3 linked regions of the Homo sapiens genome follow. The protein of the gene in region 1 purifies or fractionates together with the protein of each later gene. This does not show direct contact. Each region holds a gene or a part of one and is shown in the gene's direction. Other genes may lie near its edges. The genes, in order: TUBGCP2, MZT1 and NEDD1.

Evidence for each region.
Region 2: the proteins of TUBGCP2 (region 1) and MZT1 purify together in Homo sapiens (affinity purification with mass spectrometry; 5 studies listed by BioGRID and IntAct, with this or other methods). This does not show direct contact.
Region 3: the proteins of TUBGCP2 (region 1) and NEDD1 purify together in Homo sapiens (affinity purification with mass spectrometry; 2 studies listed by BioGRID and IntAct, with this or other methods). This does not show direct contact.

The regions. Positions count from the first base shown.
Region 1 is NC_000010.11:133,284,574-133,292,167, reverse strand, and holds part of TUBGCP2 (gamma-tubulin complex component 2), read left to right. Parts: intron 1-120; exon of another isoform or gene 121-766; intron 767-860; exon of another isoform or gene 861-1,335; intron 1,336-2,198; coding exon 2,199-2,344; intron 2,345-3,147; coding exon 3,148-3,328; intron 3,329-3,858; coding exon 3,859-4,039; intron 4,040-6,539; coding exon 6,540-6,712; intron 6,713-6,954; coding exon 6,955-7,083; intron 7,084-7,594. UniProt on the Homo sapiens protein: Component of the gamma-tubulin ring complex (gTuRC) which mediates microtubule nucleation.
Region 2 is NC_000013.11:72,707,586-72,710,942, reverse strand, and holds the end of MZT1 (mitotic-spindle organizing protein 1), read left to right. Parts: intron 1-597; coding exon 598-621; 3' UTR 622-2,576; downstream 2,577-3,357. UniProt on the Homo sapiens protein: Required for the recruitment and the assembly of the gamma-tubulin ring complex (gTuRC) at the centrosome.
Region 3 is NC_000012.12:96,944,976-96,952,569, forward strand, and holds part of NEDD1 (protein NEDD1), read left to right. Parts: intron 1-717; coding exon 718-874; intron 875-6,456; coding exon 6,457-6,523; intron 6,524-6,973; coding exon 6,974-7,078; 3' UTR 7,079-7,594. UniProt on the Homo sapiens protein: Required for mitosis progression. Promotes the nucleation of microtubules from the spindle.

The DNA.
Region 1 (7,594 bases):
CTGCCCTCTCCCGTACAGGTAGGGCTCCCCGGGACACGGGGACATGGGGGACATGGGGGACACGGAGGGACACGGAGGGACACGGAGGGACACGGGGGACACGGAGGGACATGGGGGACACGGAGGGACACGGAGGGACACAGAGGGACATGGGGGACACGGAGGGTGCGTGCTGCCCTCTCCCGTACAGGTAGGGCTCCCCGGGACACGGGGACACGGAGGGACACGGAGGGACATGGGGGACACGGAGGGACATGGGGGACACGGACGGTGCATGCTGCCCTCTCCCGTACAGGTAGGGCTCCCCGGGACACAGGGACACGGAGGGACATGGGGGACACGGAGGGACATGGGGGACACGGAGGGCGCGTGCTGCCCTCTCCCGTACAGGTAGGGCTCCCCGGGACACGGGGACACGGAGGGACACGGGGACACGGAGGGACATGGGGGACACGGACGGTGCATGCTGCCCTCTCCCGTACAGGTAGGGCTCCCCGGGACACGGGGACACGGAGGGACACGGGGACACGGAGGGACATGGGGGACACGGACGGTGCATGCTGCCCTCTCCCGTACAGGTAGGGCTCCCCGGGACACGGGGACACGGAGGGACACGGGGACACGGAGGGACATGGGGGACACGGACGGTGCATGCTGCCCTCTCCCGTACAGGTAGGGCTCCCCGGGACACGGGGACACGGAGGGACACGGGGACACGGAGGGACATGGGGGACACGGACGGTGCATGCTGCCCTCTCCCGTACAGGTAGGGCTCCCCGGGACACGGGGACACGGAGGGACACGGGGACACGGAGGGACATGGGGGACACGGACGGTGCATGCTGCCCTCTCCCGTACAGGTAGGGCTCCCCGGGACACAGGGACACGGAGGGACATGGGGGACACGGAGGGACATGGGGGACACGGAGGGCGCGTGCTGCCCTCTCTGGGGGCTCTGGCCTTCCTTTGCTTGTGGTCTCAGGAAAGCACACCCCGGGCAGATGTCCGCCTGCTGCCCATGGGGCCCAGGGCAGGAATGGCCCAGCTGCTTATGGCCTTATTCTTTTGTGTGCAGGACATTAAATTGCCTCCAATTAGGTCCTTCAACCTCTTTGGTGCTTGGATTTCCTGATCTGGTGGGGTCTGTCGGCTTCTCTTCAGTGCGATATATTTAAATGGATAAAAATATGTTAGTTCCCAAAGAATTGTATTATGTCTATTACGTCAAGATACCGTTGTTGAAATATTTTCAAAAAATACATTAGTGATGTGGAAATGTTATTTCTTTACTAATGGACCAAATAAAATCTGGTATAATGGGCACCTTTAAAGAAAGCACCTTCACACTTGAAGTGCGTAAATGATGTTTGAAGTTGTTCAGATGATGACGTGGAGATGTCTGGTTTCTGTCAATGTTGGCCCCGCCTACCCCACACGAGCATCATTTTGGGTGTCAGGGCCCCACGCACCCCACACGAGCATCATTTTGTTGCCTGGGCTCATCATGGAAGGAAATGCTAAATTCCAAAAAGAGGTGGGTGCAGATAAAGACAAATCAGTTTCCCACCTATCTCTGCGGACCGTACATTCTCCCTGAGCCCAGGTTAAATACTCCGTTCCAGAGCGAGGTTTGTAGGTTTGTTGGTTTTCTTTTTTTTTTTTTTCTTTTTTTTTTTGAGGCAGAGTCTCGCTCCATTGCCAGGCTGGAGTGCAGTGGCATGATCTCGGCTCGCTGCAACCCCCACCTCCCAGGTTCAAGCGATTCCCCTGCCTTAACCTCCCAAGTAGCTGGGACTACAGGTGCACACCACCACGCCCAGCTGATTTTTTGTATTTTAGTAGAGACGGGGTTTCACTGTGTTGGCCAGGATGGTCTTGATCTCTTGACTTCGTGATCTGCCCACCTCAGCCTCCCAAAGTGCTGGGGTTACAGGCGTGAGCCACTGTGCCCGGCCCCTAGGTTCGTTTTAGCCGAGAAGTGTTGGGGTTACAGGCGTGAGCCACCGTGCCCGGCCCCTAGGTTCGTTTTAGCCCACAGTTGAGAAGTAACTGGTAGATTAGGCTCGGCCCTTGTGGAACGTTACTTGGAAGTGTGCTGGCCTCTGTTAATGTCCCTGCGCGCTGCCGGCCTGGAGAAGTGTCGCCTGCCTCAGGCGCCCTTGCTTTGCCTGTGACCGAAGCGCTCCCTGTGGTTTTAGTGAGTTTATGGTCGAGGAGCACGAGCTGCGGAAGGAGAGGATCCAGGAGGATTACAACGACAAGTACTGGGACCAGCGGTACACCATCGTCCAGCAGCAGATCCCGTCCTTCCTGCAGAAAATGGCGGACAAGATCCTCAGCACAGGTGCGGCGCAGCGGGCGGGGACTTGGGGTGCGCAGCACAGCTCTGCCTGGAGAGTCTCCTGCAGCCCAGGCCCTCCCACCGGGAGCCTGTGCCTCACCCTGTGGTTGCCCTGAGCCCTGGTGTCCGTGAATGCGGGGCTGAGGTCAGGACTGGCCCGTGGGCTGGGCTGCGGCGCTGAGTTAGGCCTTGAGATGGTCTCTGTTGCCAGGTTCCCTCAGGTTTCCATCTCCGGGACTCTGTCCCTGACCCTGCGAGGCTCTCTCACAGGTGCCTTCTCTATTTCTGTTTCTGATTTCTAAAACTCCGCTAGCATGTCAGGAAAAACCAGCAAAGACACACGCCTGGCGGCCGGCAGTGTTTCCTATCTCTGACCACACAGGTTAGGGCCTGACCTGGACCCAGGGCAGTGGCGCGGGGACTTGGACTCGGCACATCGGGGCCGTCACGAAAGGGTTGGGAAGCGATTAGCCATCCGGTTCTCATAATGCCTGTTCGAAATTATTTCTGTGCCCTTGGTTAGAAAATTCCAGATGTGCAGAGCCACGGCAAAGCCCTGCCACCACCAGCTCAGTCTGTAGCCGCTGACAGTGATTTACCGGGAAGGAGCAAGGGTGTGGAGCCGCCTCATGCAGCCCAGTTTCCATTCCACTGCCTTCTGTGTAGACAAAGACAGCTGGGGCCTCAGACTGACCGTGTGGAGAGCCCATTCAATGTCCATTCCACTGCCTCCTGTGTAGACAAAGACAGCTGGGGCCTGAGATCGACCATGTGGAGAATAAAATTTTGAATTTCTGTGTTTTCAGGAAAATATCTAAATGTGGTCAGAGAGTGTGGCCATGACGTCACCTGCCCGGTGGCTAAAGAGATCATCTACACGTTAAAAGAGCGGGCGTATGTGGAGCAGATCGAGAAGGCGTTTAACTACGCCAGCAAGGTGCTGCTGGACTTCCTGATGGAGGAGAAGGAGCTGGTGGCTCACCTCAGGTGATTCCGTGCCCTGTCCCTGTGCGGGCACTCACCTCCCTCTGAAACCGGAACCTGTGGGACGTGGGGCTGAGATCGCTGGGTTTCTTCTGGCAGCTCCGCCTTGTCTTTTTGAAAGTGGGCACTGCTGGATGGTCTCTAGCTCAAGGACCTGGCACTCACAGTGGGTGGTGTAGGCCCCCGGTCACCTTGTCCAGGGGCCCCAGCTCCCCTCCTTGCCCAGGGCCCACCAGCCCCTTCTCAGCTCCTCCTGCCACAGCTTGCGTGGTGGTTGCACAGCCCCTGCCTGAGAGCCAAGCGCTTAGCCTGTTGTAGTGTGTTTTAGGGTGATGGCTATGGCGAGCATCTGTGGGTGGGCACGTGCTCACGCCTGCTCCCTGGCCGTGGCGGGCACCTGCGGGTGGGCACGTGCTCACGCCTGCTCCCTGGCTGTGGCGGGCACCTGCGGGTGGGCACGTGCTCACGCCTGCTCCCTGGCTGTGGCGGGCACCTGCGGGTGGGCACCTGCTCACGCCTGCTCCCTGGCGCAGGTCCATCAAGCGCTACTTCCTCATGGACCAGGGCGACTTCTTCGTGCACTTCATGGACCTCGCGGAGGAGGAGCTCCGGAAGCCGGTGGAGGACATCACGCCCCCTCGCCTGGAAGCGCTCCTGGAGCTGGCGCTGCGCATGAGCACGGCCAACACTGACCCCTTCAAGGACGACCTCAAGGTGGGTGGGGGTGCCGGGGGCTGTCCCCTGTGGCAGAGGCCTCGGAGGGGCTGGGAGGAGAGCACAGCAGAGGCCAGCCCTGTCCCCCACTCCCCGTCCCGGTGAGGCGACCGCAGGGTCTGTTTCCTTCACTTGGCTACCGGGGCCGGCTTGCCGGGATCGGGGGTCTTTGTGCCTGTGCTCTGGAGGGGCGCGGGTCTCGGGTTTTCCTGCAGTGCCCTCGTCCGGGCCTGGCTTTCAGGTCATGCTGGCCTTGTGGAATTGTTTTCACGTGTCCCTCCATCTGTCTTTTGAAAGGGTTTCAGGTCTTTTGAAAGGGTTTCAGGAGTGGTGTTAATTCTTTTTGTTTTTGCCTTTTTGTTGTCGTTGTTTTTTGTTTTTTTTTTTGAGACGGAGTTTTGCTCTTGTCACCCAGGCTGGAGTGCAGTGGCATGATCTCAGCTCACTGCAGCCTCCACCTCCTGGGTTCAAGTGATGCTCTACCTCAGCCTCCCGAGTAGCTGGGATTACAGGTGCGCGCCACCACGCCCAGCTAATTTTTGTATTTTTAGTAGAGATGGGGTTTCACCATGTTTCCCAGGCTGGTCTTGAACTCTTGACCTCAGGTGATCCACCCACCTTGGCCTCCCAAAGTGCTGGGATTACAGGCATGAGCCACCGTGCCCAGCCGTTTTTTAAAATATATATATGTTTTATCTGTTTTTTACTATTTTTAATAGAGACGGGGGTCTGTGTTGCCCAGGCTGGTTGAACCCCTGGGCTCAAGCGATCCTTCACCTGCGCCTCCCCAGGAGGGTGTTGATTCTTTGGCTGTTTGGCAGGGTTTGCCTGGGAGCTCTTGGGCCCTGGGTTTGTCTTTGTTGGAGACTTTTGAGGGGGACTTGGCCCCTTGCTGGCCACAGGTCTGCTCAGTCCCTTTCCTCTTGGTCGGCTGTCTGTCTCGCATCTTGTCTGGTGCACAGTTCATGGGTTTCTAGTATCTGCTTTTTATTTCTGTAAGATTAGTAGTTATATCCCTTCTTTTTCTGATTTTAGTAATTTGAATCTTCTTTCGTCTTAGCTGATGTAGCTAGAAATTTGTCGATTTCATTATCTTTTCAAAGAACCAACTCTTGGGTTTGTTGACTGTATTTTTCTGTTTTCTCTCTTCTGTCATCTTTGTTACTCCTGTCTGCTGCTTAGGGGTTCAGTGTGGTCTTCTTTTTTCTAGTTTCTTAATTTGAAAAGTTAGTTTACAGCTGTAAACATCCCTCCGAGTGCAGCCTTCGCTGATCCCCTAGCGTCATAATTTCTGTTTGTCTGGAGGTGTTTCTGATTCCCTCTGATTTCTTGTTGGAGCCGTGGGTGGTTTATGTTTAACTTCCACATGTTTGTGAAGTTTCTGGTTTTCCTTCTGTTGCTTGTTTCTAACTTTATCTCCTTGTTAGAGAACAGACTTTTTGTGATTTCAGTTTTGTGAAATGTATTGATTTGTGTAGTGGCCCCACATCCATCCTGGAGAGTGTTCCGTGCGCGCGGGAGGAGGATGTGCCCTCGGTTCCGTGCGCGCGGGAGGAGGACGCGCCCTCGGTGCTGTTGGGGTGGTGTTCTGCAGGTGGGTTGAGGCCGTGTCTTTCCTCACTGATCGTCTGTCCGGCGGTTCTCTCCGTGGTTAGAAGTAGGGCACCGAGTCTCCCTGTCACTGAAGAACTGCTTTTCTCCTTGTCATTCTGTCTATTCTTGATTCAGATATTTTGGGGTCTCTTGTTAGGAGCAGGAATATTTTCGTAGGAAAAATTCCTGGTAGTGAAATTGTTGGGTCACAATACATGGCCCTTGTATGACTAGGCTGACCTTGCTGGAGTTGATGGAGTCCAGTCTCAGGACGCTGCTGTCTGCACACCTGCGAAAGCTCCCACCTTGGCTATTTGATGGACAAGTGATGTCAGGGGCTCATTTCTGCGTTTGTGATGGTCACGATTTCGTCTGTCCGCTGCTTGTTTCTTCTTGCTTTATCCCCTGCCCTTCATTTCCTGTCCTGTCGTTGTGCGATGGTTTTGTAGGAACTCTGTTGCGGGTGGTTGGAACTTAGCAAATACTCGAGTGATTAACGTGAGGACAGTATTACTTGCTTATAATAACTATTATGTCCCTCGTCAAATATGCTTCATTTTTCAACCTGGGCCTGGTGCTTATCATGGTACAAAGGTTTTCGTCCTAAGGAATCACGTTTCTTTCACCGTCCTTAGCGGTTTTTCCCTTATACCACCCACAGCAGCAGTGGGTATTTACAAAGTAATTCATCTGAATTTTTGTTGTTTTGTTCTGATGGGAAGTGGTTCAGTTTTGAATTTGATTTATCAGTAGATGTTTGGGTTTTTGAAAAGCCTCTGATATTTAGAATCGGAATGTAGGGAACCTTACGTCAGCGCTGGGTCTGTGAGCGAGGATGGCGATCGGGATGCGACTTCGGGTCTTTTCCTTAAAACTGGATGCTTTGTTTCATTTCCTTCCCTCCAAGATCGACCTGATGCCCCATGACCTCATCACTCAGCTCTTGCGCGTCCTGGCCATCGAGACCAAGCAGGAGAAGGCGATGGCGCACGCCGACCCCACGGAGCTGGCGCTGAGCGGCCTGGAGGCCTTCTCTTTCGACTACATCGTCAAGTGGCCCCTTTCGCTCATCATCAACAGGTGCGGGTCGGCTGCTCGGGCACCTGCCAGATCTTCACTCAGGTTTGGCAGAAGCGAGAACTGTGCCACGCGGTGGCCACCTCGTCCCACAGAGGACCCAAGGCGGCTCTCCCCGGCCTTCAGTGTCCGAGAGATTCACGGGCTGTCCGGGGGCCACGGTGCGGACTGTGGAGTACAGACGCCGTGTCCACGACGCCGCCGGTCACGGAGGCCCACCTGAGGTGCCGCCACGTCTCTTGCAGGAAAGCCCTCACTCGCTACCAGATGCTCTTCAGGCACATGTTCTACTGCAAGCACGTGGAGCGGCAGCTCTGCAGCGTCTGGATCAGCAACAAAACCGCCAAGCAGCACTCGCTGCACTCCGCCCAGTGGTGCGTTCTTCCTCTGCCCCCGCATGCCCTCCTGAAGCAGCGCTCGCTGCACTCTGCCCAGTGGTGCAGCGCCCCCCTTGTGCCCTCCTGGTAGACAGCTTTCTAGGCTTCTGGAAGTGTCATCTGGAAGCGCACGTTGGTGGCTTTAGATCCATAATGCTTCATTGCTTCATTTTCCTGTCTTGGGGCTGCACGGCGCTGCCGTCCACCCCACAGGGGATGCTGGCTCTGTCCCTCAGCCCTCTCTGGAGCCTTGTGGTGACTGCACGGGCATGGAGACTGCCCAGGTCGGTGTGCAGGACACTAGCTCCTCCCGAGAGCGGACAGCCACATCTTGCTGGGACCAGAGGTGCTTTGCAGCCGGTCTGTGCCTCTAGGGTGTTGAAAAAAGGGGTCGATGGCAGAGCTTCATAAGAATTTGTCCAGTCGGGTGCAGTGGCTCATGCCTGTAATCTCAGCACTTTGGGAAGCTGAGGAGGGAGGATTGTTTGAGCCCACAAGTTCGAGACCC
Region 2 (3,357 bases), on another chromosome or scaffold:
TATCTTTTTATATTGATGTTAAGAAATTTTTTAGGTAGGATAATAGTATGGTGATTTGTTTAAGTCTCTAGAAATAATGTATCAAAGTATTTATTGATGATATGGTATCTTGGAATTTCTTCAGAATCACCTGGGAAAGAGTAGTAGTTAGGGATGTAGATGAGACAGGATTAGATAAGATGTTCATTATTCATCTTTTGCTCTTGTTCTCTCTGCCTTGTAGCATGAAAGGTCTTTTTCATTTTTAATCCCTATTACTAGAATAAAACACAGAAACAGACAAACTAATGAAGTCTGTGGCAACAGGTCTGCCATAGGTTAATGTTTCAAGTAGCAGTATGTTTTTTGTGCTCTTAACTATTATTTTAGGTGATATAACTATTTTCCACTGTTAGCCTGTGGACTGTTAACTGTACATTCAAAAGGTAGTCCTGATGTATAGCAAAACATGAAAAGCACTGCATTACTGTGATAAAAGTGGTTCTGTTTTATGGGGAATAGTTGTTTGTTAATGACAGTGCAGTATTGACAAATTTATCTTCATGATGCCTCTTTTTCCATGGTTTTATTGTAATGAATCTTACTTTCTTGTTCTAGGCTGCTGAAAATATGACAAGCTGACTTTCTGGAGAAATTCTGATGAGATATGTCAAGCTCTGCAAGAGGGTTTGAAGATTGCATTGTAGTTGAGAATGTACAATGAAATTACTGCATGCAGCAGTGTAGAAAAATTTTACTTTTTAAAAGAATTATAAAACCATAGCTTTATAAATCAGTGGAAAGTGGCTTACAGAGAGAACTATCAGATGTGTTTACATCACATCTTATTCACTTTTTTTAACAGCTCTAATGCTTTGGCATTGCTATGTTCATATTTATGTATTCCTTATTTATAGCTCTGATAGCTTTAATTTTCTAAGCAGTCTGTCTATCAGATGTGCACATCTGCTGTGCCAGGTTGAAGTATAGTGGAACCCATCAGTAGTAATGTGTAGTAGTTATGACTTGTTGACATTTCCATTATAAACTTTAATTTTGAATTGTTTATGCATTATAACTGTGGATTTATATTGTATTGGGCTGAAAGTTGACAGGATTTCAGCCACCACTTGTGAATTTTTATTTAGATTCATTATGTATATCAGAATCTTGTTTTTTGAAATAAGAGCATGGAAAACATTTCTTGTAATCTACTCTTGAACAAAGAATATTTAGTTTTTCAAACAGTTTGTTGGGCAGCTAATAGTGTGAACCAGGTCATTTTTGTATTGAGTAAAAAAATCAAACTTTGAGAAACTTGGATTTTAAAAGTAATGACAATGCTTAGGTTAGTATTATTTGTAATTTGAATCATTTACATCTAATGAGAATGTTAGTTGAGAATGTTTTCTTAAAGTTTTATATCCTATAAATAACGGAATAAAAAAATTTGTAAAATGAAACAACAAACATGCAAAATTCCTATTTACTTTTATTACATAAAAGTAATTTTAGTGCTTACCTAATAAATCTTGAATGGTTATTTAATAAATTATTAGATGGGTGATGTGTTTCAAAAGATACTTGCTATTTTTTGAAGAAATAAGGATTTCCAGTCATTAAACAAAACTAAACAATCTTATTAGATGGGTGATGTGTTTCAAAGGATACTTGCTATTTTTTGAAGAAATAAGGATTTCCAGTCATTAAACAAAACTAAACAATCAAATGTTCTATATTAGGAATCTCAAGTATGGCTTTTTTTAAAAAACCTTTTTAACATCTTGATGTCAAGGATTATAAGTATGGCTTTTCAGAATTGTTTTGTTTGTCATTATTCTTGCCTTTAAAATTTTAACTCATCAAAGTGAAGATTAGAAATAAATTTTAGAAAATGTAGAATAGTATTGATTCTGTTCCTGTAATAGAATCTCAGTGGAGTTTTTTTGCAAAACTAATATGGATTTCATCTGATTTTATTATTTCTTAAATTTTAGATTTTATTGAGTACCATTTATATGATTGTACAAGCATTCACTCTTTACTAGCATTTTTTGTTTTTCAGACAAGCTGAAGTGGTTTTATTAAGATTTGGTAATATTTAAATAGCAACCTTCTCTGCCTTTTTTTTTTTTTAATATAGAATTTTGACCATTTTGACTTTTTAAATGCCTGGCATCTTTACCAACCAAGTAAACTGGAAGATCTGTTACTGGTAGAACAGGTTGAGGAGACAGTAGGAATTTGTAAAAAGTCATTTGATTTATAATCAACACTACAAATACTATGTGTTATTTATAAAATCATAAAGAACACTTTTGTCAGACTCCAAAATTTGTATATACTTCCAGGCCATAAGAGTTGATAGTATTATTTATGACTTTGTAGATTAAGTTATTTATGTATGAAACAAAGCAGGAAAATATATTGAGAAGGGATCGTGTTTACAGAGGACTTCTTTAAAGTGTCACATTTTTAAAATGTAAACATATTTTTAATGCATACTTAAGTAATATTTAAGAAACTAAACAAAATAATGATACAATTGCAGTGTTGTGCTTGTTGTCAATGACAAAAATAAAACCATTTTGGTGGTATTGGCCTGTACTTTTGTTTTAATATATGCTTTTGTTAATTCAACTTGTGTTTCTATAGGACAAAAGATACAGAACATAAAATTTACCATTTTAACCTTTTTTTTTTTTTTTTTTTGAGATGGAGTCTCACTCTGTCACCCAGGCTGGAGTGCATTGGCATGATCTTGGCTCAATGCAGCCTCCGCCTCCTGGGTTCAAATGATTCTCCTGCCTCAGCCTCCCGAGTAGCTGGGATTACAGGCACCTGCCACCATACCTGGCTAATTTTTTGTATTTTTAGTAGAGGCGGGGCTTCACCATGTTGGCCAGGCTGGTCTCAAACTCCTGACCTCAGATGATCTGCCTGCCTCAACCTCCCAAAGTGCTGGGATTATAGGCATGAGCTACAATGCCCTGCCCTTTTTAACCATTTTTAAGTTTCATAGTTCAGTGACATTCAGAATATTCTTATTGTATTGTAACTATCACTATTGTCCATCTCTTGAACTTTCTTATCCCAAACTGAAACTCTGTACCTGTTTAGCAGTAACTCCCCATTGCTTCCTCCTCCCAGCCCCTGGTAAACAGTTTCCTACTTTTTTGTCAATGAATTTGACTATTCTGGATACCTCATATAAGTGGAATCATATTTGTCCTTTTGTGTTCGTCTTATTTTACACAGCACGTCTCCAAGATCTATCCATGTTATAACATGTATCCAGATTTCCTCTTTAAGGATGAATATGTCTCATATATACATGGGAGACAGGTATTCTTTTATATATATGGTGGACATTTGGGT
Region 3 (7,594 bases), on another chromosome or scaffold:
AATTCAGGTACGTTGATTTGATCTTTTGGTGTGAATTAGATTTTCAGTGTAATATGTGTCTTTAATATGGTAGAGATAGAATTATTATGTAGGACCCTTTGAAAAGGGTTGGTTAACTACCTGAAAATGTCTTTTTCTCTTTCATATTAAAGTCTTATCCTTAGAGTTTGTGCTGCAGACCCATACAAACTTCATCACATTTAAAGGAATATTTGGTTTAACTCTAAGAGTTATCTACACAAAGCAACTCTTTGTTTACAATCAACTCTCATATAAATATCTATATTTTGCTTGAAGTTTTCTGTGGATATATATTGCATTAGCTTAAACTCTAAGGCTTTTCCTGTAGCAGTACTTTACTCCTATTTTCCTTCGGTTTGTTTTTAATAGTCTTGGTTTATCTAGTTTATGGTGCAGCTTGTCACATTCATCTTTTATAAGAGGAAATGGTTCATAGATTCTTCAAGATTAATCCCTCTGTCATGTGGTATTACATTAGACAGCTGGCAGTTTATATATATAGATAAATGACTATTAGAAATAATGTTATAGAAAGTTTCTAAGATTTGTATTCCAGACAGTGAATTTTTCTAAATGTCACAGGAACACTCTTCTTTGCCAGTTTTTCAAGTTTGCACATGCCAAATCTTATTTAGAAATGTTTGATGTCTCTCAGTCCAAGTTGACTATTAATATTTTCTTCATTCTTTATTTTAGATCCAAAGATAGCATCTTCTGTCACTGCTGGAGTTGCCAGTTCACTCTCAGAAAAAATAGCCGACAGCATTGGAAATAACCGGCAAAATGCACCATTGACTTCCATTCAAATTCGTTTTATTCAGAACATGATACAGGAAACGTTGGATGACTTTAGGTAGTAATTGAGAAACTACTCCTTCTATCTAGACCTTACTTGTTTTTTTTTTAGATGTAAAACCAGAACTATAGATAATGTTGTTGGTTACTATTGTCTAGGTTCTGGTAATCCTAAAGCCATAGAAAACATAATGAGTTTTGTTGATCTTTTCGTACTGCATTTATTGATTATGAGCCAGGAAAAGGCACATTTACCTAGGGCAATTATTAGGTAACTCAGCAGGGCAGTCTAGCAGGTAGACTGCCATTGTGAACTTTTTTTATTATTAAAATGTGGACAAGTTCTGGTAAGCTTAAATTGGGTTCTTAACCTGCAGTATGTTCATAGATCTATTAGGTATGCTGTGTGCAATAATGTAGTAGAAAAAGATACTTTAAAGCACAATTCTGAATGTTTTCCAATAGAATGCATCAGAATGTAATACTTAATCTAAAAAAAATTCTTTCTCAGACTTATCCTTGTCTGTCTCATCCTTCGAATTGTGAACATTCTAAGAATGTGTTCTACAATGCTGCTTTCTTTTATCATCTCAATATTTTTGGAAGCTATCTTCAATTATTAAAATCATTGGTGCCTTTTTTCCTTTCTAACCTATAGTTAATGTTGTAGCTCAGATTTGGATTACCGTAAGCAAGAATGTTGGAGAAAATGTGCAGTTTTTGTTGGTGCATGCTTCCTTTTAATGTTTTAAAATACTTTTAAAATATATTTTTAAATGTCGAAAAATACTTTTTAAAGAAAAATTGTAATTTTGGCATTTACCCTACCTAGTATATGTACCAGATACTAAGGATACATCAAATGATCTGCCACAAAGGCCTTGTGATGTAGTTGGGCTAGGTGCAGTGTGTTCTGCCATGTGTGTTTCTCTTAATGTGAATTAATTCATTTGGGATCAGTAGAATAGAACACTGTTGACAATATGATGAGGAAATTTTGTTTGTTCGTGTAATAGCAGCCAAAATAAAGTACACCTGAACACAGCTGAATGCAGCAAACCCCGTCAGCATCCATCTCTTTTTATTCACTTCCTCTTGGCTTGGCTGTGTGGTCTGTTAGAAGTACTTATTTTGTGATTATTTCCCATCTTTGGGCATTTTGCTCTTGCCTCTGTAACTTGATAGCCGCAATCCTTCTATCCTCTTCCATTAAGTGACCATCACTTCTTCACAGTAAGGGTATTATTCAATAATTATCTATTAGATTTTTACTATGTCTTTTTAACTATGTTAGTATTTTTATTAGGATTTAATTGTTTTTGTTGTGCTCTGGTTACAAAGTTGCATAGGTTTTTGAGTGCTTTGCCCTAATCCTTTTTCCCTAAGTTCTGTTATTTTTAATACACAGTGTTAAAGAATATACGTTTTTTTCAGGAGTGCATAAATATTTATGGCATAATAGTAGAACTGTCTGGATACAGCTGACTATAATACAGTGTGAGCAAAGTGATGTTGAAATCACAGAAAGGGAGCAGTTCTTCTGTGGGGGCAGATTTAGAAAGGTACACTGAAGAGATTTTATTTTATACTGATGTGTGTGGGAACAGCTTGAGCAGAGACATGATCATACATTCTAGGAATGTTTGCAGAGAGAAGGCACCGTGGTAAGAGACCAGGCCTGAGGGACAGTTGTGAAGGTCTTAACACACAGGTAATGGAGAGCCATCAGAGTTTTTAAGCACAGGAGTAATGGGTGCTGTCTATTTATTACCCATTTATTCAACAAGCATTTGGGTGTCAGTTCACCACTGGCTTCAGATGATTTGAGGACAGTGGGCTCAGGGCCTTTCCTTCAGCAGACCCAGGGATCTGAGTGCTGGAGCAACTCTGAAATCGCTGTGCATTTCTGCCCTGCTGCCAGCTTTCGGGGTGGCTGGAGCTTGTTTTTCACTATCTAACCTGTTCCTGGCTTTCTGTGCCTCAGGAGAAGTGTGTCTGTCCCACTTTCAGCCCTGCAGAGCTGCTGCAGCACGTTTGGTGAAGACGTACAGTCAGTGCCTCTTGGTTTTGCTGCCCTGTGCTGCATGTCTGCACCTAGGAGTGGTGGGTAGGGACTTCTCTCAGCTCTTCTGCCCTTTGACCATAGGCAGCCTCTGCCTGGGACGCAGTGAAGACCCAGAGTGGCTCAGAGGATTTCCATAAATTCACTTGTTTTGCCATTTGCCTAGGTGTTCATCAGACTAGGTGTTCATCTACACCTATCATTGGCAGGACAGAGAGGGTATTGAGGACCTCTTTCTCAGCCATCCTCCCGTGGCTGCCATCTTCTCCATGAGAGCCTGGAGTGCCTTAGAGGGGTTACTCTCAGTTCTTCTCTGCTGCCCTAAGGTTTCACCAGGCTCTGTGCATCTGTATCTTAGGGAGTCTCCCTCAGCCCTCCTGTTACACTTGTCCCTACTTTTTTTACATGAGCGCTGAATGAAGGCTTGTGGGAAAAAGTTGGTGAGTAAATTGAGACTCTCCTTGTGGCTGGGACCCCTTGGAATTCTAAACTATCAAGCAGTGTTTACTTGGCTTTTAAAAATCTTATTAAAATTTCAGCTAGTTCTTTTTACTCTGTCAAGGGCATGAAGATGGGTCTCTTTTCTCCTAGTCATGGGTCTCTTTTCTCCTAAGAGGAACTCCTCATTTTCTGGATTTTAGTTCATTTAGATTTCTTTCCATTCTCAGCTCTCGGTTGAATTTAAAATAATATGATTTTATAGGTTATCAGGTTTGTTTTCGTTATTAGAGTTGAGAAATTATACTTTTGCACCAACCTAATACATCCTAAGTGGAAATCTGTGCATCTGTTTCTGTTGTCTATTAAGAAGATTTAAGTTTCTTTTGGCAAGCAGATCCCTTTGATCCTTTGGTTACTAGGTTCAGGTTTTCTTAGCACTAGTTTGTTTCCAGTTTGCCTTTATTCCTAGTGTGTAGTCTTTTCTAGGACATCAGCTGAATGTCTGGAGTATTCACTGTCTTTTTTACCTTGGTGGGTCCCAAACTTCAGCCTCTATTTTGCCAGCATCACAAGACTTCCAGAATACTTTCTCTGCTCTTTAGTTACTTGTTTTTTGGTTGGTTTCCTGCCATCTAACCCAGGGGGAGCATTGCTTAGAAGTCAACAGATGTCTTGAGGGGAAATTCCACAGTTTCAGGCTTAGTTTTCTGCAGGCCTCCTCTCTTCAAGACCTTGGCTCTTACAGCCTTGGCTACCTTGGTAGGCCCAAACTCTTAATACTCCCCCACCCAGCGAGACTATCTCAACCTCCAGGCCACTGCTTCAGCTCGGTTTCTTCTCCACACTGTGGAATCAGCACATACTCTAGAAGGAAAAACAGAGGTAAATGAAGAGCTTACCTAGTAGTCTTTCGTTTGCAAGATCATGGCCCTTCAAGTCCTGGCTACCTCAATGGTTCCCTGATACAGTGTTTTTGTTTGTTTTCAATACAGTTTTTACTATAATTGAAAGTAGAAGAGGAAATTTTTAAAAATACCCTCATAGTTAGAACAGAAAAACAATAAGTTACTTGGGAATAAATCTACCAAAGGTAGTGAAGATTTTTGTAGAAAAACATTAAAAATTTTTTTTGTTTAAAAGCATTAACATTTAAATAAATGGAGAGATTATAAAGATATTAGTTCACCTAAATAGGTCAGTAGATTGAATGCAATTCCAATTAAAATCCCAGCTGGGATTTGGAAGAAGATGATGAAGTGATTCCAAAATATGTATGGAAGGAAAAAAATCTAAGAATAACTAAGACATTTCAGAGAAGAATAAGGTTGAAGGGGACTTATTTGTCAGATGAATACACTTAATTATTAAAGTATAATTAAGATATATAGCATGGCACAGGGATGACATACTGGCCAAAGGAATGAAATAAGCTGGAAAGAAACCTATGCATATATGGAAATAATAGAGAGGTAGCATTGCAGATTTATGTGCAAAAAATGGAATAATCAGTAAGTTGTGTTGTGACATTTGTTTTTTCCTGTAAAAAATAAGTATAGATTCCATGCAATTGAGAAAAATCAGTTCCATGTAGATTAAAAGTTGACTTTATAAAAGTTTATAACTTCATGGTAGGAAATCATTAAAAATAAAATAATGCACTGCCTATAAAAATACATTGGTAAATTTGACTGCATTATTAGTATATTTGAGCACATTAATAAGAACTATTTATCACACAATATCACAGAGTGAAGGGATAAGAAGATACCTGCAGTTCTCATATAAATAACAAAGGATCAGATTATGTAAAGAATGCTTATAAATGAATAAGAAAAAGATATGAAAAAGCATTTCAAGGAAGAGGAATGGTATATGAACACAGGAAAGATATTCAACTTCACAATTAATCAGAGAACTAAAAATGCAATGAGATACCGTGTCACACCGAGTAAATGGGAAAATATAAAAAATCTGGTAATACTAAGTCTTGATGATATAGAGCAAGAAGAACTCTGTTATACTGGTGACATCCATTGATAACTACCTTTGGAAAACAATTTGCATGATTTTGTAAAAGTATACACTTGAGTTACAGTTGGTTATATCATCAATGGACATTGGCACATGTGGGTTTGGAGATAATACATGATTGTTTATAACAACGTTGGAATAGTAAAAACTTGAAAACAGTCAAAATATTAACAGGAAAATAGATACACCAGTACAAACTAATGATATACAGATATATAAAACATGAATCTTCAAAACAATATTGAATTATTTCTTAAATATAAGCTATATGGTACCCTTTTTTGTAATGCTCAAAAACATGCACAATGAAAACATTGACTACAGATTATATGTTATACAAATGTATTAAAAAAGCAAAAGCATTTCTTTGTCCAACAAAATTCAGGAGAGTAATGACTTCTTTCTTGGGCTTTTTCCCAAGAGTTAAGTGATAGAATCAGACAGGAACACACAGGAAGCTTCTATTATTTGGTAATGTTCTAGTTCATAAGTTGTGTGGTGGGTGACTGAGTGTTTCTTTTGTTATTATACTTAATAATTTTTACATATTCTTTTGTAGGCATGAATTAATTGTATTTTATTGAGTAAGCCATGCTATATCCACCCAAATTGCCACTTTATACTGAAAGTACATTTTTTCAATAGCTAAACTGATAATAATAAAATGATCTTTCTAACCTAGTGAATTTTCTGTATTTCATTGTAAGATAAGTTTGTGTCTTAATGACAATTTCTATATAAAGGAATATAGTATCGGAGAGTTCAGGGGTTAAACAGCCTGGGTTTACATCCTAGCTCCATCATTTACTGGTTGTGTGACTTTGAACAAGTTATATCTACTCTGGTTAAGTTATTTCTTTTGTAAAATGGACCTGTAATAATTGCATCTACTTGTGAAGATATTTTAAACGAGTTCTTACATTTAAAGTAAAGGAAACAGTGCCTAGCACATAGTGAATAAATGCTCAGTGCATTGGTATTTTTATTATTATAGTAATTATTAACATTCAGTAATTTGGCAAATGAAAAAGTTTAGTGAGTTTCTTGAATGACCTAGAATTGGTTAAACTATTGTAATTCTAAAAAGTATTTTACATTCTTCCTAGAGAAGCATGCCATAGGGACATTGTGAATTTGCAAGTGGAGATGATTAAACAGTTTCATATGCAACTGGTATGTATGGCAAATTTTATTTTAATATTTTAAATGAAAGTAGAGTTGTGTGAATTTTTAAAAATCCATGAAAGGTAATATATTTTAGTTGTTTTGTTTAGTTTCTAAGATAAATAGGGAGTTTTATAGACTAAATAAGTAAAATAGATTTTAACTGGTCACCTCCTTTTTAACCTCTGAGATACTTAAGCCTTCTTTTTTCCATGGCTTTCTTCCTGATAAGTAAGCAAAAAGCATTTTAAATGTGCAAATATAAATTTTCCAAATATACTAATTTCACCAACGATCTTCCATTTATATTAACAAACTAGTAAGTTGTTAAGTACAAGAAATATCATTCACCTAGTTAATTGAACATGAGAGAAATGATAGCTGAAAGTATATTAAACATAGCCTGCCAAATAAATGTGAAATATCAATAATTTAAAAAGCATTTTCCTGTTTTTCTAGAATGAAATGCATTCTTTGCTGGAAAGATACTCAGTGAATGAAGGTTTAGTGGCTGAAATTGAAAGACTACGAGAAGAAAACAAAAGATTACGGGCCCACTTTTGAAATTTCAGTGAATACCTTAATGTTCTGTAATTTGGGAAGTTTCTGGCAACACAGAACTACATAGAATCAGTATTGTTTTCATGGCCTCCAGGGAAAAAATGTTTTTCAAGTAAGAGTAAAAGGATGATGGGATTTTATACCAACAACTGTTTCATCTTAAAAATATGTATATTTTTATATTAAAAATTGTACAGTATGTCATCTACCCAATAGGAAAGTCAACAGGATCTTTATTTTTTGAAAGCTTTAGCCATCCACTAAGTGCCCTTTTTCATAAGAGAAGAAAATTGTGCATAAAAATTGGTTATGTTTGTTTTTTAGTCATCTTTTTTAACATATATTTTTGATTGACAAATTGCCTTTCAAATTTTTGGGGCTAGTTGAGATTTAAAGAGTTTGATATGCCTTCTATTTTTATGGAGAAAGTAATTTTAAAATGGCAATTGGTGTTTCTAAGCCATTGACTAATAAAACATAGGGTTGGCTAGTAATTATTTTGTTAACTTGATGAAGTCA